Linked DNA regions of Homo sapiens: region 2 is linked to region 1. A link means that fine-mapping ties the variant in region 1 to the expression of a gene that starts in the linked region. Tissue or cell type: whole blood. Region 1 holds a variant in brackets; the other region holds the start of a gene. All regions are shown on one strand. Distances are from middle to middle.

What was found. PIP is the estimated chance that this variant, and not a neighbour inherited with it, causes the effect.
Region 2: ARHGAP26 starts here. The variant in region 1 is fine-mapped to the expression of ARHGAP26 in whole blood (TOPMed, PIP above 0.99).

What each region holds. Positions count from the first base shown.
Region 1 is chr5:142,808,546-142,816,652 of GRCh38, reverse strand. All of the region lies in intron 1 of ARHGAP26 (Rho GTPase activating protein 26), which reads right to left. Among named protein-coding and RNA genes, the nearest start is that of ARHGAP26, 42 kb to the right of the region's middle. The variant G/C (reference allele first, on the strand shown) is at 4,535.
Region 2 is chr5:142,765,795-142,773,901 of GRCh38, reverse strand. It overlaps ARHGAP26 (Rho GTPase activating protein 26), which reads right to left and starts at 3,525. Exons shown (of 23, transcript NM_001135608.3): 1 at 2,987-3,525. The coding sequence starts at 3,140. RefSeq lists an enhancer at 2,051-2,886 and silencers at 3,182-3,301, 3,312-3,721.

The DNA.
Region 1 (8,107 bases):
CATTCCCTGAAGCCACACTGCACTTCACAAGCCTTTGCTCACACAGTTCTTTCCATCTCATGTGTCTCTTCTTCCTATTTCTTCTGACTCAACTCCTCTTTCTCCAAGGCCCAGGGCGCACATGGCATCTCCTACAAGATGCCTTTGCTTCTCCACTAATGGAGAGTGACTATCCTCCTGTGAATTGTGGCTTCACTCATGTACTCCTCCTATGGCACTATTTAATTGTGTTCTCTATGATACCAGATGCTCCTTAGGGGAAGAGATTGAGCAGGCTTTATCGCTGCAGCCTTCACTGTACCTAACACTCTTTACATCAAAATGATATCCATTCACTCATCAACACATATTTATCCAGTGTCGATCATGCACCAAGTTGCTCTCAGCTGCTCAGTATATGATGGTAAACAAAAAAAGACATGGTTCCTACCCTCATGGGCTTTCCATCTAATGATGAGCCAAACTTCAATCAAATTGTACCCAAATGAGTGTACAGTTAGCAATATCTCTATGCTGTAGAAGGGAAAGAATCAGAGTCCTACAGAAGCACAGAGGGGCTGGACACCATGGTTCACACCTGTAATCCCAATACACTGGAAGGCCCAGGCGGGTGGACGGCTTCAGCCCAGGAGTTTGAGACAGCCTAGGCAACATATCGGGACCTCATCTCTACAAAAATTAAAAAAAAAAAAACAATAAGCATGGTGGTGCATGTCTGTGGTCCCAGCTACTCAGGAGACTAAGGTGGGAGAATCACTTGAGCCCAGGAGGTTGAGGCTGCAGTGAGCCATGATTGTACCACTGTACTCCAACCTGGGTGATAGAGTGAGACCTGGTCTCAAAAAAATAAGAAGAAAAGAGCAGCAGTAGCACAGATGGACCAGGAAGGCTAGCCGGGGAAAGTGAGGCTCGAATGAGTCTGAAAGTGGTGAGAAGGGGAAGTGGCAAAAGTGCTCCAGGTCCTGGGGACAGCCTGTGCAAAGGCCCTGTGGTGGACCAGGGCTGACAGCCAGTGTGGTTGGAGACTGCAAAGGAAGCAGGGGAAGGTGCTAGAAGGTGGCAGGGACATCTCAATAAATGTGTGCAGTGAATAAGAATCCATGACCCTCATCACTTAGCAAACTTTTTTAACCAATAAAACTAACCAACCTTAGATTTATAACAAAACACAAAATATAACTTAAAAAATACTCTTTTCCATTTAAAAGAAATGTCCTCCTTCAGTGTAACTGCTGTTCTCTAAAAAAGACTAAAGTGAGTTCTCATAGCTAAAATAGAAATAGAAAAGCAAGCATAAAAATTATGTAATTCTGGCCAGGCATGGTGGTTCACACCGGTAATCCCAGCACTTTGGAAGGCCGAGGCATGCAGATCACCTAAGGTCAGGAGTTTGAGACCAGCCTGGCCAACATGGTGAAACCATATCTCTACTAAAAATACACTGGCCAACATGGTGAAACCATATCTCTACTAAAAATACAAAAATTAGCCAGGTGTAGCAGCGCTGGTCTGTAATCCCAGCTACTTGGGAGGCTGAGGCAGGGGAATCCCTTGAACCCGGGAGGCAGAGGTTGCAGTGAGCCGAGATCATGCCACCCCACTCCAGCCTGGGTGACAGAGCAAGACTCTGTCTCTAAAAGATAAAAATCATGTAATTCCGTAAGTAATATGATGTTGCTCTATCCCTGAGTCAGGAGCCAGCCAACTGACTAGGGAAACAGCCTCTCAATCATCCTACATTGATAACAAGAGCAGAGGCTAATAACTGGCTAATAACTATTGAGCATTGTCTACAGGCACTAACGCATTATCTCATCTGATTGTCACAACAACCAGTGTGGTAAGTACCAACATCATTACCATCTTACAGATAGGGAAACTGAAGCCCAGAGAGGTTAAATAATTGGCTCAAGGTCACACAGGTGATGAGCAGTAGAGCTAGGTTCTGAATGCGGGTTAGTGGGACTCCGGAGCCTGTACACTTAGTCACCATACTACACTGCCTCACAAGCTAGCTACCATGTCAGTACTTCCAGAATCTTATTTACTTGTTTATCTCACCTTGTTGTACTGAAGATTTAAGCCACTGAGCACCGGCAACACAAAAAAGATAAAAATCATCTCTGAAGCAATGCAGTGGAACTTCTCATGTCAGCTCCCTTCCTGTTCCAGGTCTCTTTCAAAACACTCCAACTCTTCCTCCAATTTTAATAAAGAAAAATTTTCCAGTTCATGGCAATACTTAATATCCTGAGAGAACAGGAATTGGAAACCGATGAATCTCCTTAGGCTACATCCCAGCCAAAGTCAACAGATTCCAAACCTCTCTTGTAGGCAGTCGCTGTTTACAGCACATCTAACAGGAAGAACAGGGAAGTTGCAGATTACCGGAAGGCTCTAGCCATGGTGTTCCCAACTCTTGACAAAGTTCTGAGTCTTGTCTGAAGGACAATATCACACTTTTACTATCAACAAATTCTTCCCCAAACTATTCCTACTCCTCTTTCTCAACTCCTGTCTGAAAGTAGCCAAGACACAAGGGTTAATAAGCAAAGCTTACCTACTTGTGGATAACACTGTCCACCTACTTCAGGCCTGGCCAACCCTCCTGAGGAACAGCCAACTTGCCTAAGCCACCAGTAAGATCTTATTAAACTAGTAATGGTGGCCACCAAGTCCACACCCAAGCCTAAAGCTGGCTGACCTTGTCTTCCCTGCTGGCCCTCAGAGGCCCACCTGAGGAACTCAAGGCTTAGGTAACATGAGTGTATTTTGGAACTGCATTCCTGAACCACACTGTCAAGGGCTGAATTGAGGCCCCTAAAATTCCTATGTTGAAGTCCTCATTCACAGTACCTCAGAATGGGACTGTATTTGGAAATAGAGTCTTTAAAGAGGTAATTAAGGCAAATGAGGTCATTAGGGCAGGCCCTAATACAATATGGTGACCTTATAAGAAAAGAAGATTAGGACACAGGCACAGCAGAGAAAAGACCGTGTGAAGATACTGGGAGAAGACAAGCCAAAAAGAGAGACCTGGGAAGAAAACAGCCCTGCCAAAACCTTGATCTGACTTCTAGCCTCCAGAATTATGAGAACACCAAGTTTTGTTATTGAAACTGCCCTGTCTGTGGGACCTTGTTATGGTAGCCCTAGAAGATTAATACACACACTGTCCAAGTCACCCCTGTCACCCAGTTCCCTCCCACTCTTTGAAGGGCAGAGCAGTCTGGTTTCCTTCTGAAACAGTCAGCCATGTGGCACGGCCGAGCACAAAAGTCCTATCAGGCCACTGAGTGCTGAAGTCAATGGAGACTGACCTGGTATTGCCTTTCAGAGGCTGGGAACCCAGGACAAAATCTTATGTCAATTACACAGAGAGGATAGGTAGAATTTTTCTTTTTAGAAATTATATAGAATTTGGTGGCTCACGCCTGTAATCCCCGCACTCTGGGAGGCCAAGGCGGGTGGATCACGAGGTCAGGAGATCAAGACCATCCTGGTTAACACGGTGAAACCCCATCTCTACTAAAAAACTACAAAAAAAGTTAGCCGGGCATGGTAGCCGGCACCTACAGTCCCAGCTACTCAGGAGGCTAAGGCAGGAGAATGGCGTGAACCCAGGAGGCGGAGCTTGCAGTGAGCCGAGATCGCGCCACTGCACTCCAGCCTGGGCAACAGAGTGAGACTCCTTCTCAAAAAAAAAAAAAAGAAAGAAAAAAAAAGAAAAAGAAATTATATAGAATTAACATGCAGTCAAGCCCTCCCACAGATAATTGATTGCTAAGGCCCAGCATCAATACCCCTGTTTTAGGAGCCAGACACGGTGGCTTATGCCCTCAACTCCAAAGACTCAGGAGGCTGAGGCAGGAGGACTGCTTGAGCCCAGGAGTTTAAGACCAACATGGGCAACATAGCAAGACCCCATCGCTAAAAAAATTTTTTTTAATTAGCTGGACATGATAGCATGTGCCTATAGTCCCAGATACTTGGGAGGCAGAAGAGGGAGGATTGAAGCTGCGCGTGGTGGCTCATGCCCATAATTCCAGGACTTTGGGAGGCCGAGGCAGGAGGATCACTTGAGGCTAGGAGTTCGAGACCAGCCTGGCCAACATGGCAAAACCCCACCTCTACTAAAAATACAAAAATTAGCCGGGCATGGTGGCGCACACCTGTAATCCCAGCTACTCGGGTGGCTGAGGCACGAGAATTGCTTGAACCCAAGGAGGCAGAGGTTGCACTGAGCCAAGATTACGCCACTACACTCCTCTGTCAAAAAAAAAAAAGAGGAAGATTGCTTGAGCCTAGAAGTTTAAGGATGCAGTGAGCCATGACTGCACCACTACACTCTAGCCTGGGCAAAAGAGTGAGACCCCAGCTCTAAAAATATGAAAAAATACCTCTGTATTAGACCAACCATGCTACAGTGAGTTTTCCTGTAAAGAACTGGGTTAAAAAGATCCTTACAGCAACTGCAAGGTCAGGATGTCTGCCCGAACAACCCTCATACTACAGGAAGCGAAGAGGAAGCACT[G/C]GGGGGAAAAGGCAGTAGACGGGGTGGGGAGGGGGAGCCTTTCACAAAAGATCCTTTCCAAAAAACGTCATCCAGGAGATGAGAATGCCAACTCATCACAGCAGCTAGGTGATGAGTAAGCTTATTTCAGGAGGTGACCAGGAGTTCTTCGAGTGCTATGATTAGGTGAGGAGGCTGCAAGCCATAAGAGGTTCCTAGAGCTGGGAGGTTTCAAGAATTACTTAGAGGCCAAGAAATAAGGAGAGAATATTTCAGTTGGGTGCTACTGAAGCCAGAGCAGGAACGGAATGATGAAAATGGGTTCTAAGCCTGGTGCAAGGCTGCGCACAAGAGTATCATAAGTGAAAAGCTAGCATTTATTAAGTAATAGCTGCACGCCAGGCATTGTGCTAATAAGCAGGCTCTGTATGCATTGGCTCACTTAAACTTAACAATAACCCCAGGAGGTAAGTCTATTATTACTTCCATTTAAGAGACTAAAATAAGGCCAGAATATAAGCTCCGCAAAGGCATGATTCTGTCCCTCAGATTGTTCACTAGCAAATCCTTAGAGCCTAGAACAGTGGCTGGCCCACAGCAGGCACACAGTGTTTTTTTGTTGAATACATGAAAAAGATAAGGTACTTACCAACTACACGTGACGGACAGGCCAGGATTGGAAGCCATGCTGTCGGCGTCCAGAGCCCACACTCTCAGCTTCTACTCTATGCCACCCAGGATGGAGAGAGCTTGCTGAAGAGATGGGAAATAAATCTCCTGGCATGTGGACAGCTTGGTTGACCACAGCACATTTCACAGTGTCTGCATCTTCTGCTTCAGCGCTGGCAATATTACTGTATACCCAGCATACAGAGTGAAGTTATTCAAGGGGCCAGTGCCTATAGATGATCAGGAAAAGTGGAAGGCCAGGCATTGTGCTAATAAGCAAAGTCCGTATGCACTGGCTCACTGAAACTTAACAATAACCCCAGGAGGTAGGTCTATTTTTACTTCCATTGGCAGGGCACAGAGTAGCCACAAATCCTCCTTTCCCTCAGTCCTGGAACACTCCCTGGGGCCTCTCTCCAACTTGTGTCATGCCCCACAATTCACTTTAGTGTGGGAGAGGGAGATGGGAGGAAAGGACTGGAAGCGGGTAGATTTATTCATCTGACTCTCCAAGAATATGGTGAATACAGCTGGTACAATCTACAACAGAACTTCCCAAAATGTGGTATGTATATGTCCTTGCATACCACAAATCGCTTTATGTAGGACACAAACACTAGAGTTTACATATCAACGCTTATGGTTACTTACTATTTTGGGCGAATTATACTTGTTCTTTATTAAACGAAGAGTGTCCCTTCAAAAAGAACAAGCACTCCCACTTAAAGAACAATATTAGGTCAACAATGAAATAGGTATTACATCAATGTAGCAAAAAATCAAAACAGAATTGACTACAGTTTCAGAAATACTGGTTTCCTGGAACTTCCTAAGTTCTCTGTGTCAAATGTCCCCATCCCTGCAACTTGCCTGTCCACTCAGGTATGCCATAGTTCAAAAGGAAGAGTTTACAGAGATTAAGTTTTAAATTTTCTATCAAAATCCCTTAATAAATGACTACACACACAAAAAAGAAAGAGATGGGGGAGAGGGGAGAGGAACAGACACAAAAAGGCATGTTCATTAAAATATTATGAAGTTAACAACAGGACTTGACCTGGGGCTGAAGTCATGCCCTCTGCCTGAAGACAGCTGTAACACAGAGCTCTCTTTGATACTACCCTAAATTCCACACTATTCTTTCGACTATTATTGTATACATGGTAGCTTAGCTCAGCCCTGTCCAAAGAATTGTACTGAGGTCTCTGGGACCTGTTCCAACAACAACACACAATGAGGCCTTCTTTCTCTGATAAAGCCAAGAACCCCTCCCTCTGTGATCTGTTCCCCTGCCCCTCCCAGACAAAACTAAAGTATCATTTTGAGAAGAATTCATCAGCCAAATACTGCCTTCTCTTCACCTTCCCTGTTGGAGATGATCAGGTTGCAGGGCAGCTAAGGGTGAGTTGTGCTCTAGGACAGAGCCTAGGGGTCTAGTCTGCTCCAGGGAGAGATAAACACTTTTACTCGCAAATTCATGGCATCTTATCCACAGCTGTAGAAAGGTAAGGCTGAAAGGGAAGCAATGATACTAAAACCTGCACCAGTCCAATGTAAGATCCATGAGAGAAGGGCCTTATCTTATTCATGCTGTATTCCCAGAACCAAATGCAACAGTGTTTAGTGCTCAGCAGGTACACAGTAAATTGGTATTGAATGGATGAATGAAGTGAGCCACTAAGTGGATGAATGAATGAATGAGTGATTGGATGGATGGATGGATGGACAGATGAATGAAGGAGTGGATGGCTCCAGCAGGACTGGCAGAAGTTAAGAGGAGGGAAAGCATGACTGTAAGATTATTTTCTCTCTATCTGCTTGAAAGCTAGCAACTGTATAAATAATGGGACTCCAAAGGAGGACTATTTTTCTCTTTTCACAGCCATCCCTTGCAGGTGGTGGATTAACTGCAGGACTTTTGGCCCCTGAACCACCGGGACTCACTGCCTGGGGCAGCAAACCAAAAGCCATCTTGACTTTCTCCAGGACATATTCAGACACCCCAACTTCTGTCTTGATTGCTAGTGTCCAAAACAGGAAGAACAGAGTGCTGCTGGGAATGCAGAATTGCACCAGCTGATCTGACCCCTTCTTCTAAGAAGCTCAAAGTCCTTCACATCCTGGCTTCTCTCTTGGGGAACTTTTATTTACAGTAGACCTATATTTTTTTCTTTTCTTTTCCTCTCTCTCTTTGCTTATCTGTATTTTCTAATCATTCTACAATGAACAGATTACTTGAGTAATAAAAATGTCTAAGACTGATAAAACACACAAATAAAACCATTCAAAAAAGACACTGAAAACGCACATTTTATAGAGTTCCATTTCAACATTTCTACAGTATAAAATTTAACACTACCATTTCATGCAGTTGCACTCAACTAAGTCCTTTGAAAACCAAGCTGTAAATTTCTGATAAAAGTCAAAGCTCATGACTTAAAATCAGAACAGCCAGCCATACAGGCACTTATCTTATAAAAAGGGGCAGCCATCTGATGGGCAAGGTGCCAGAGTATTAGAAAGGACAAGGACACAAGCTTAATAAGTAAGGTGCCATATATGGATGAAACATATGTTCTCAGTTCAGCTGTGGTAAGAAAAGATGCTCTGCATCTCTCTTCTGGTGGCAAAAACTTCCAGAGCGGCTGACAGGAGCTATGGTACACTCCGCGGTGATAGAAGGGGTTTCTTTCTTGGTGGGGTTGATTGGTCCATCTTGGAGCTCAACCCTAGTCCCAAACAGATGGACCATGCTCTAGGCAGCTCGACCACCAGCTGGGAGGGGTCTCCCATTCCACTCAGTCTCAGAACTCATTGTCAATGTCCAGCCTGCTCCACAAAGTGATAACAAGGAAAGCAGCTGGGCTAGCAATCAAAAGATTGTATTTCTGGCCAGACCCTGCATACCCCACTTAGTTATTCTGT
Region 2 (8,107 bases), 43 kb after region 1:
TTTACTCTTGCTTTGAAAGGCAAAGAGGATGAACCACTTACTTACCTTACTGAATCACACCAAGAACAGGTTTTTGGCCTCTCTGTTCAATGCTATATTACTCAGTGAAAAGACAATCACTGATAATCATTCAGTGCTACCCCCAAAAGAAACTCTGCTGCTTTACAAAGCCAAGACATATTCAGCCACTCTCATCTGTCCCTCTAGCCTTCAAAGCCCGTGATGGAGAAAGAACTCCAAAACTTCAGAGGATAATACAAAATCTTAGCTGGTCTTTGCTACCCAGGGCTCGGAGTCTAAAAAACAACTGGCAATGTTTTCACTTAATCAAGCACCTGCTGCATGTTTCTCCTTTACGGGATCTAGATCTATAAAGAATTTGCATCTCCATTGCCAGCATCTCATTCATAAAGTGGAAGTAATAGTAACAATGATCTACCTGAACTTTGGCAATCCCTAGAGGACAGTTTTATTGCCTATGATTAACACTCAAAACCAAGTTAAATCCAAAGAGCTAGAAATACTAGTTATAAAATAACTGTAAAATAAAATAAAATATGGCTATAAAATAAAGCCACAAAAGTTTAGAGCTATAAGAGAACATAGATTATCTAAACCCAGTGTTTATATAATTATGTATTTATGTTTAAGTTGTACTGGGAAAACACTTCTGTTTATAGATATAATAAACATGACTGAAGAAAAATAATACACAAACATTAATATAGTAGTATACCACGCAGCAAGCATCTCATGATATCGGAATGTCTGAAATCCAGGACACAATGGTTGACTCCACCCTCTATTTTTAGAGGTCACCTGACCTGATCAAGTAGTAGTTAGTAGTGGTAGAATACATTAGCAGAGCTGGACGTAGAGAGAACAGAACACCGAGATCCCCATCAGTCTTTCCTCCAGATTACAGGGCTGATCCATTCCATTAGACAGCTTAAATAACACTTCAACTCTATCACTGCAATGTTTCTTCCTACCAAAGAATTCTTGCCCCCAAAAACTAGTGGTAGGAAAACTGCCAGTCACCCAAACGCACCCTCCTCAGATTCAATGCCAAAATAGAAAACACAAGTCCAAATTCTAGGGCTTGGTGCAAGAGGTTCCATTCCGGGCAAGTGAGATGGGGCAGAAGTCAAGAGCTCTGCACTGGCAGGGACTCCATCTCTGGCTCAAACCAGGTGGATTCAAAAGCTCTGGTCCTGCTGCTAGAGCTGTGTGACTCAGAGGTAATGCTTCCCCCAGTCTCTGTTTTCTCATTTGCAGAATGAATCTAAGCACATGAGATAATTATATGTGAAGCAGTGCCTGGAATGAAGTACACCTCTGTAAGCACAGGAGCAGCAAAATATTCACTCCTACACCCTTAGTGCCCAGTGCAGTACCCAGTACACCACAATCACACCAAAAGTTTGCTGAGTGAAGCAGAGAACTCACTAAAGCCAGCCTGAGGTTCAATCAAAATTCCTGGGCCCAACCTGTAAGTGGGCCCCTAACTTACTCCAAACCAGGGACCCCCATCCCCTAAACCAAGAATGGCCTTGATTATTGACAAAGGAAGGGTCTGTTCATATGTTTCAGGTAAGGCACAGCCTAAGAATCTGCCTCTAAGAAGCCTCATCACATCACAGTCCTGTGTTCATTTCATCCCAAAAGATTGGCACTTTGGGCTGCCCTGGCATTCCATTGTCTCTCTCTTCATTTTTAGAAGCAACAAGCTGACAAAATGACATCTCAGGCACCTGACTTTTGTAAGTGCCCTTTAAAGAGGCCTGGGAACAATTCCCACAGCTACGACTCTACTCTGCTAAGGCAAGATTTCTTAGCTGAAAGGTATCACCTACTAAGAAATCCATCACAGAAACAGATACAGTAACAGAGTCAGAGACAATTCCACTATCTGCCTTCATGTGGTTCCTGATTCTTAAAACTAAAAGATGGACTGAGCTATTTTTAAATGGGGAGACTGAAAAGGCACCAAAAACGTTCTCACAATCCAAAGCACTCATCCCTAGAGCACGCTTATTTGGCCAGAAAAAGAAACTCTCTGGCTCTGCAAAAGTGAAGCAGAATGCAAAATTGCATCTCTCCCCTTGTACCAAAAGGAAAAAACGCAAAAATGGTTTTACAAAAGGTCCAAGAATCTTTGAAATACGTTTGAACTTCTTTCTGAGAATTATGGATATTCCTTCTCAGACCTTTACAAGGATAACGGAAGAGGTAAAAAGGAGAGCTTGGGAGCAGGAGAGGGAGAGAGTTGGGATATGTACATTCTATTTTTAAACCCTCGCCCACAGTTTAGAGTAAAGGAACACTCTGATTCTCTACTCCCACCCCTATCACCTTCTGCTAAACACAAGAATCAGAACCTGCGCACGTACTGATTCCAGATTTAGAGATTACTGGCTGCCAATACTCCAAGGAATCGCAAGCTAACCAAGCATTCCACCCAGGGAACCCGGCGGCCTGACTAGGCTGGAGCTGCGTACAGGGAGCGAAGCAGTCACAACCCACCTTTTCCCAAGGGGAGGCAGCGCCCCCTCGGCAGGGCACGCTCCATTCTCACGGTTGGGCACTCAAGGCTGAGCAACTCTGCCCCTAAGGGAGCTGGAGCTGTGGACACGATGGGATCTGCCCGCTGGCTGCGGCGCGCTCGGCACTCTGGCCCCACTGCTGGGACACCTGCGTGCCGCGCACGCCCACGCCCACCCGCGCTGCCCCAGAGCACCACCCGCGCTGGGTCACCTCCCGACCATCCCTGAACGCAAAAGGCGGAGCGACGGGTCTCTCTCTTCATCTGATGGTTGCTGGTTCGCCCGCTTTACGTATCCTTCCTGCCTCGGAGGCGTCGACACCCGTCCCCCAGTGTACCGGGAGCAGAAACCCGGCAGACGCGCGGGCAACCCGGGCTAAGCGCCACCTCCCAGTTCCTCCCGCCCCGGAGCCGCGTCCCCGAGGGGCTCGGGACACTCACTCTTGAGCGCGCTTATGAGTGACTTCCCGTCCTTGATGAGCTCCTTGATGAATTTGTTGGTCTTGTCCAGCTCTGCTTCGTGCGACTTGAGCGTCTCTCGGAAGTGCGGACTATCGAGGCAGCAGTCGCTGAACTCGAGCGCTGGGAGCCCCATGGTGCGCGCGGCGCCCAGCCGGGGGGCGCGCCTCCGCCGGGGCCCGGGCCGCCCGCCGCCCAGAGCACTCACGCGGCGGGACCCCGGCCGGCTCCCCCGACGGCCGCCGGCTCCACAGGTGTGGCGCTGGCTCACTCCGCGCGCGGTGTCCGCCGGCGCGCAAGACTCCCGAACCGAGCTCGGACCCGGCCGAGGTGCTGCTGTTCCGGGCGCGGGCAACGGAGCGGATCGCGAGCAGGAAACGCAGCGCGGACCCGCAGCGGCGCCGGGAAGCGAGCGAGCGGGCGAGCGAGTGCAGACGCCGCCTCCCCGCCTCCTTCGCTAGCTAGCTCTCGGCAGCCTCGAGCGCCCTCTCACAGCAGCCTCGGCCGCCCCGCCGGTGTCTGGGCCGCTCGAACCTGCTAGCGATGACTTAATCCCCGCCGGGCCAATCAGCGCACCCTCCCCTGCCCGACCCTCAGGCCGCCCGAGGACGCCCGGCCCTTCCGCGGTCTTGATCCAATCAAAGGGGCCTGGAGGCAGGGTCTGCGGCTGGGGGCGTGGCCCTCGCCAACGCCTAGGTCCGCAGCGCAAACTCCGCCTCCTCTTGCCCTCCCAGCGTTGCAGACCCCGAAACCTAGGGGTGAGCGTTGCTGTGCACCCGCCCCCGCTACCTTGCCCGCCTGCTCCAGCCCGAATCCGAGCCACGCATGGCGAGTCTGCTGGTCCTGGGGGCCGAAGAGCCTCGATGTGCCAAGCATGAAAAACCTGGGGACTAGGGCTGCAGTTCACCACCGCCTGCCCTGCACTGCGGGGCAACCGATTTTACACTCAAAATACAGCCCCCTGCTCCGGGAGAATCCCGAGCGACCAAACGCTCCTCTTCCAGTCAGGCAGAAAAATGTTATTTGCATCTTAAAATTACCAGCTCTTGCCTGCAGTCTTCCCGCCCCCTACGGTCCGTCCCCCTCACGGCCACTCCTGCTCAGAACCCGCCCACGGTTCCCCTCAGCCGAAGGAGCTCACATCATTACTAGAATTTCAGCCGCCTGTTATTTTCCTGCTCTGCATCTAGCACAATTTTACATAATAAGATGACAGTCTACTGCCTGTCATCCTTCGCTACACGGTAAGCCCCACGAGGGCAAGTGCCCCTGCAATTTTCTTGTCCGCTGTTGCATCCTGGCACCTAGCACAGTGGCTGGCATTTAATAACAGATATTGAGCACTTACTATGTGCTGTGTGTGCTACGGTGATTGATAAATGTAGAATAAATGAATGGATCCTTTCCCAGAGCCATCTCCACCTCCCACGCCCAGTGCGTTGCCCTGTAGTCCCTCTGTTCGACCGCAGGACTCAATTCTGGCATCTCACTCGTTGCACTTGTCAGGCTGGGTCCCACAGGGTGTCTAGTGCTGAATTGTTAACTCCTGGAGGATAGGGACTGTCCTTGAATAAATTATCTCTATGTCTAGGAACCAGCAGCCCTCCTTCAGCTACGTGGGGGCTTCATGTTTGTTTGGGTTGGTTTGTTTTTTAAATAGGTCTGCTATGTGCAGGCACTAGCCTAGATGGTAAGAATACAAAGATGAATAACAGAATGAATTTAGCTGCTGGTGGTATTAGGTGAGATGGAAGCAAACAAGCGATAACCATGCCTTGTGATAGGATAGAAGGCCTGGGTGCTTGGGAACATGGATTTTTCACTCAGGAGGGGTCAGAGGTGTCCCATCTATATTAAGAAAGCAATTAATGTATTAAATTCATAAATGGAGCATGGTGGCTCACACCTGTAATCCATAACTTTTGGAGGCCAGGTGAGAGGATTGCTTGGGGTCAAGAGTTCAAGACCATCTTGGGCAACACAGCGAGACCCCCCCCATCTCTACAAAAAATTGTAAAATAAATAAGTAAATGTATAAATAAGTGAATGTGATCTCTTTGATAGGTGTATCTACAAATTTAGACTTGATAGCAGGTCCAGACAGCTATCTGATAGATAATTACAACCCAAAAACAATTGTTCTTCACTTGCCAAAGATGAGAAAGATCTAGAATGGAAACCCTATGAAAGTAAATCTGTTTAATGCTTTATCTTGAGCACCTAAAGGTAGGTGTTCTGGTTATCTATTAATACAGAATAAATGATACCAAAAGTTAATGGTTTAAGACAACAGCAATCATTTTATTTTCTCTCACAATCTCTGTGGGTTAGAAATTTAGGGAAGCCAAAGGCTTGAGGTCTCTCATGTGATTGCAGTTGGATGGTGACAGGAGCTGGAGGAGTGGATGGTTAGCTGGGCATCCCACTTTTCAGGTAGACTCAGGGCTTCTCCATATGGCCTTTCTCTGTGGCCCAGTTTAGGCTTCCTCCCAGTATGGCAGCCTTAAGGCTCCAGTGTGAACATATACAGCTCACAAGGAGAAAGGTGCATCACCTTTTATGACCTAGCCTTGTGAGGTGAGAGGCCTGCAGGACTTGTTTTCCAATCACAACCCCACTGATCAAACCAGGATTCATTCCAAACGGGATTCAGTGAAGCAGCCAGCAGAAACCAGCAGGCAAGGAAAAAAGACACTTTTAGTTGCCCTCACTGCTCATTAGCATAGAGACACTCCCACCATTGCCATGACAGTTTACAAATGCCATTGCAACAGGCCATGGCAATGGCCTGGAAGTTACCTTATATGGTTCTGGAAACTCCCTGCCTCCTTTCCAGAAAGTTCTAAATAACCCACCTCTTAATTAGCATATAATTAAAGGTAGGTATAGGTACAGCTGCCAACAGCCCTGTACACTGCCCATCCTGAGCACACTCCCTATGGGATAGCCCTGTTCCACAAGGAGCAGCACTGATTCAATGAAAGTTGCTTTCTCTTACCACTGGCTTGCCCTTGAATTCTTTTCTGGGCAAAGCCAAGAAGCCTCCTGGGCTAAGCTGCAATTTTGGGCCTTGCCTGCCCTGAATCACTTGGAAGCCACATACTTCTACCACCTTCATTGGCTACAAGCAACTCATAAGCCCACCCAGCTTCAAAGGAAGGAGATTAGACTGTACCTCTTGATGGGGGAATGACAAGAATGGGAGATATTATAGTAGCTATTTCTGAAAAACATAATCTGCCACAGTGGGCCCAGCATAAATGGTAACATTCAATACATGCTAAATGAATGAAATAAAATGTGATCCACAATTATTTGTTTTATCCCATTGAGGAATAGTAGGCAAATGTGTGTAAAATAATATATATGTATTAATAATAACAACAATAATATATCAGCTATCATTTGTTAAGCTCTCAGTTTATGCCAGGCACTATGGTAAATTATTTACATGCATTTATAGCTGGCATAGTGGCACACGCCTTTAATCCCAGCTACTCAGGAAGCTGAGACACAAGAATTGCTTGAGCCCAGGAGGCAGAGTTTGCAGTGAGCTGAGGTCGTGCCACTGCACTCCAGCCTGGGTGACGGAGAGAGACTCTGTCTCAAAAAACAAACAAAAAAATTATTTACATGCATATAATCCCTACAGGGTGAGACTGGTACTATGATAGTTCCCATTTTTTCAGATAAGAAATTGAGGCCCAGAGTTGTAACTTGAACCAGCTTACCGAGATAATATTAATAATTCTATGTGGCACAAACATATAACTTAATATGCCCATTCACAGACAAATATGTAAATATGTGAATAATGTGTAAATTTCTCATAAATTTAATATGGAATTTCCACAAAAAACCTCCCACACTTTCAGCAGTATTACTAGAAAGAGAGAATCAGAATGCAGCAGTACAGGCTGGGTGTGGTGGCCCAAGCCTGTAATCCCAGCACTTTGGGAGGCCTAGGCAGGCAGATTACTTGAGGTCAGGAGTTCGAGACCAGGCTGCCCAACATGGTGAAACCCCGTCTCTACTAAAAGTAAAAAAATTAGCCGGGTGTGGTGGTGAATGCCTGTAGTCCCAGCTACTTGGGAGGCTGAGACTGGAGAATCGCTTGAACTTGGGAGGCAGAGGTTGCAGTGAGCCGAGATCGCACCACTGCACTCCAGCCTGGGTGACAGAGTGAGACTGTCTCAAAAAAAAAGAAGAATGCAGCAGTACAGAAACTGGCGCATGGAGGGTGCAGTTGTCTTTCTCTTCCCAGAAAATCTGCTCATAAGGGTAGAGATTTTGTATTATTCAATGCAGCAACCCCAGCTTAGAACAGCAATTGGAACTTCAAAGGTGCTGAACATCAATGAGCCGGACACATGTTTAATAAGAAAGAAACAGGACTCATGTGACAACATCAGTTATGGCCATGCACATAAATAGAAGAGAACAGTTAAGCCGCAGAAATCACTTTCATATGAAATAGAGAAACAATTTAGGCAACATTTGGCCTAAATCCTTTGGATGAATGTCTGAATTCCTTAAAATTAGCAATTAGTTCAAACAGTTCTGCTTTCAGTATCAGTATATTTTAAATCTACATTTTTTCTGGCCTCAATGGTCCAAATAACTTTACACCTGCCATGCAATTACCTCCCATTTGTAGAAACTTTACCACTGGCAAAGCACTCCCATGTACATTGTCTCTGAGTCCATATAATCAGAAGTGGGCATGGACCAGTCACACATTGGTTCCTGAACACCAGCTTGTGAACAGATCTGATCCGTGATGAAGCATTCATGGGTCCTTATGTAACTGAGAAGTTCAGGGGTAGATCCAGCTTCAAGGCAGCCTCTGGGGATCTAGAAGATGATAACAGCACAGGTTTCTCTCTCCATCCCCAAGCTGACCTTTGTCTGTGGTGGCTTCAGTCTCAGTGACTCTCTCAGCTTCTCCAAATTACGCCCAGCAATATTAGCAGGAAGAGAGTTTTCTAAGAATTCCAATAGAAATGACAAGACTGGAGTCAAGGATAAAACAGCCCCACTCCAAAAACGTAAAGTACTGGGGTGAAGTTGTTCCACTAAAGGACAAGCACAGCGCATTTAACA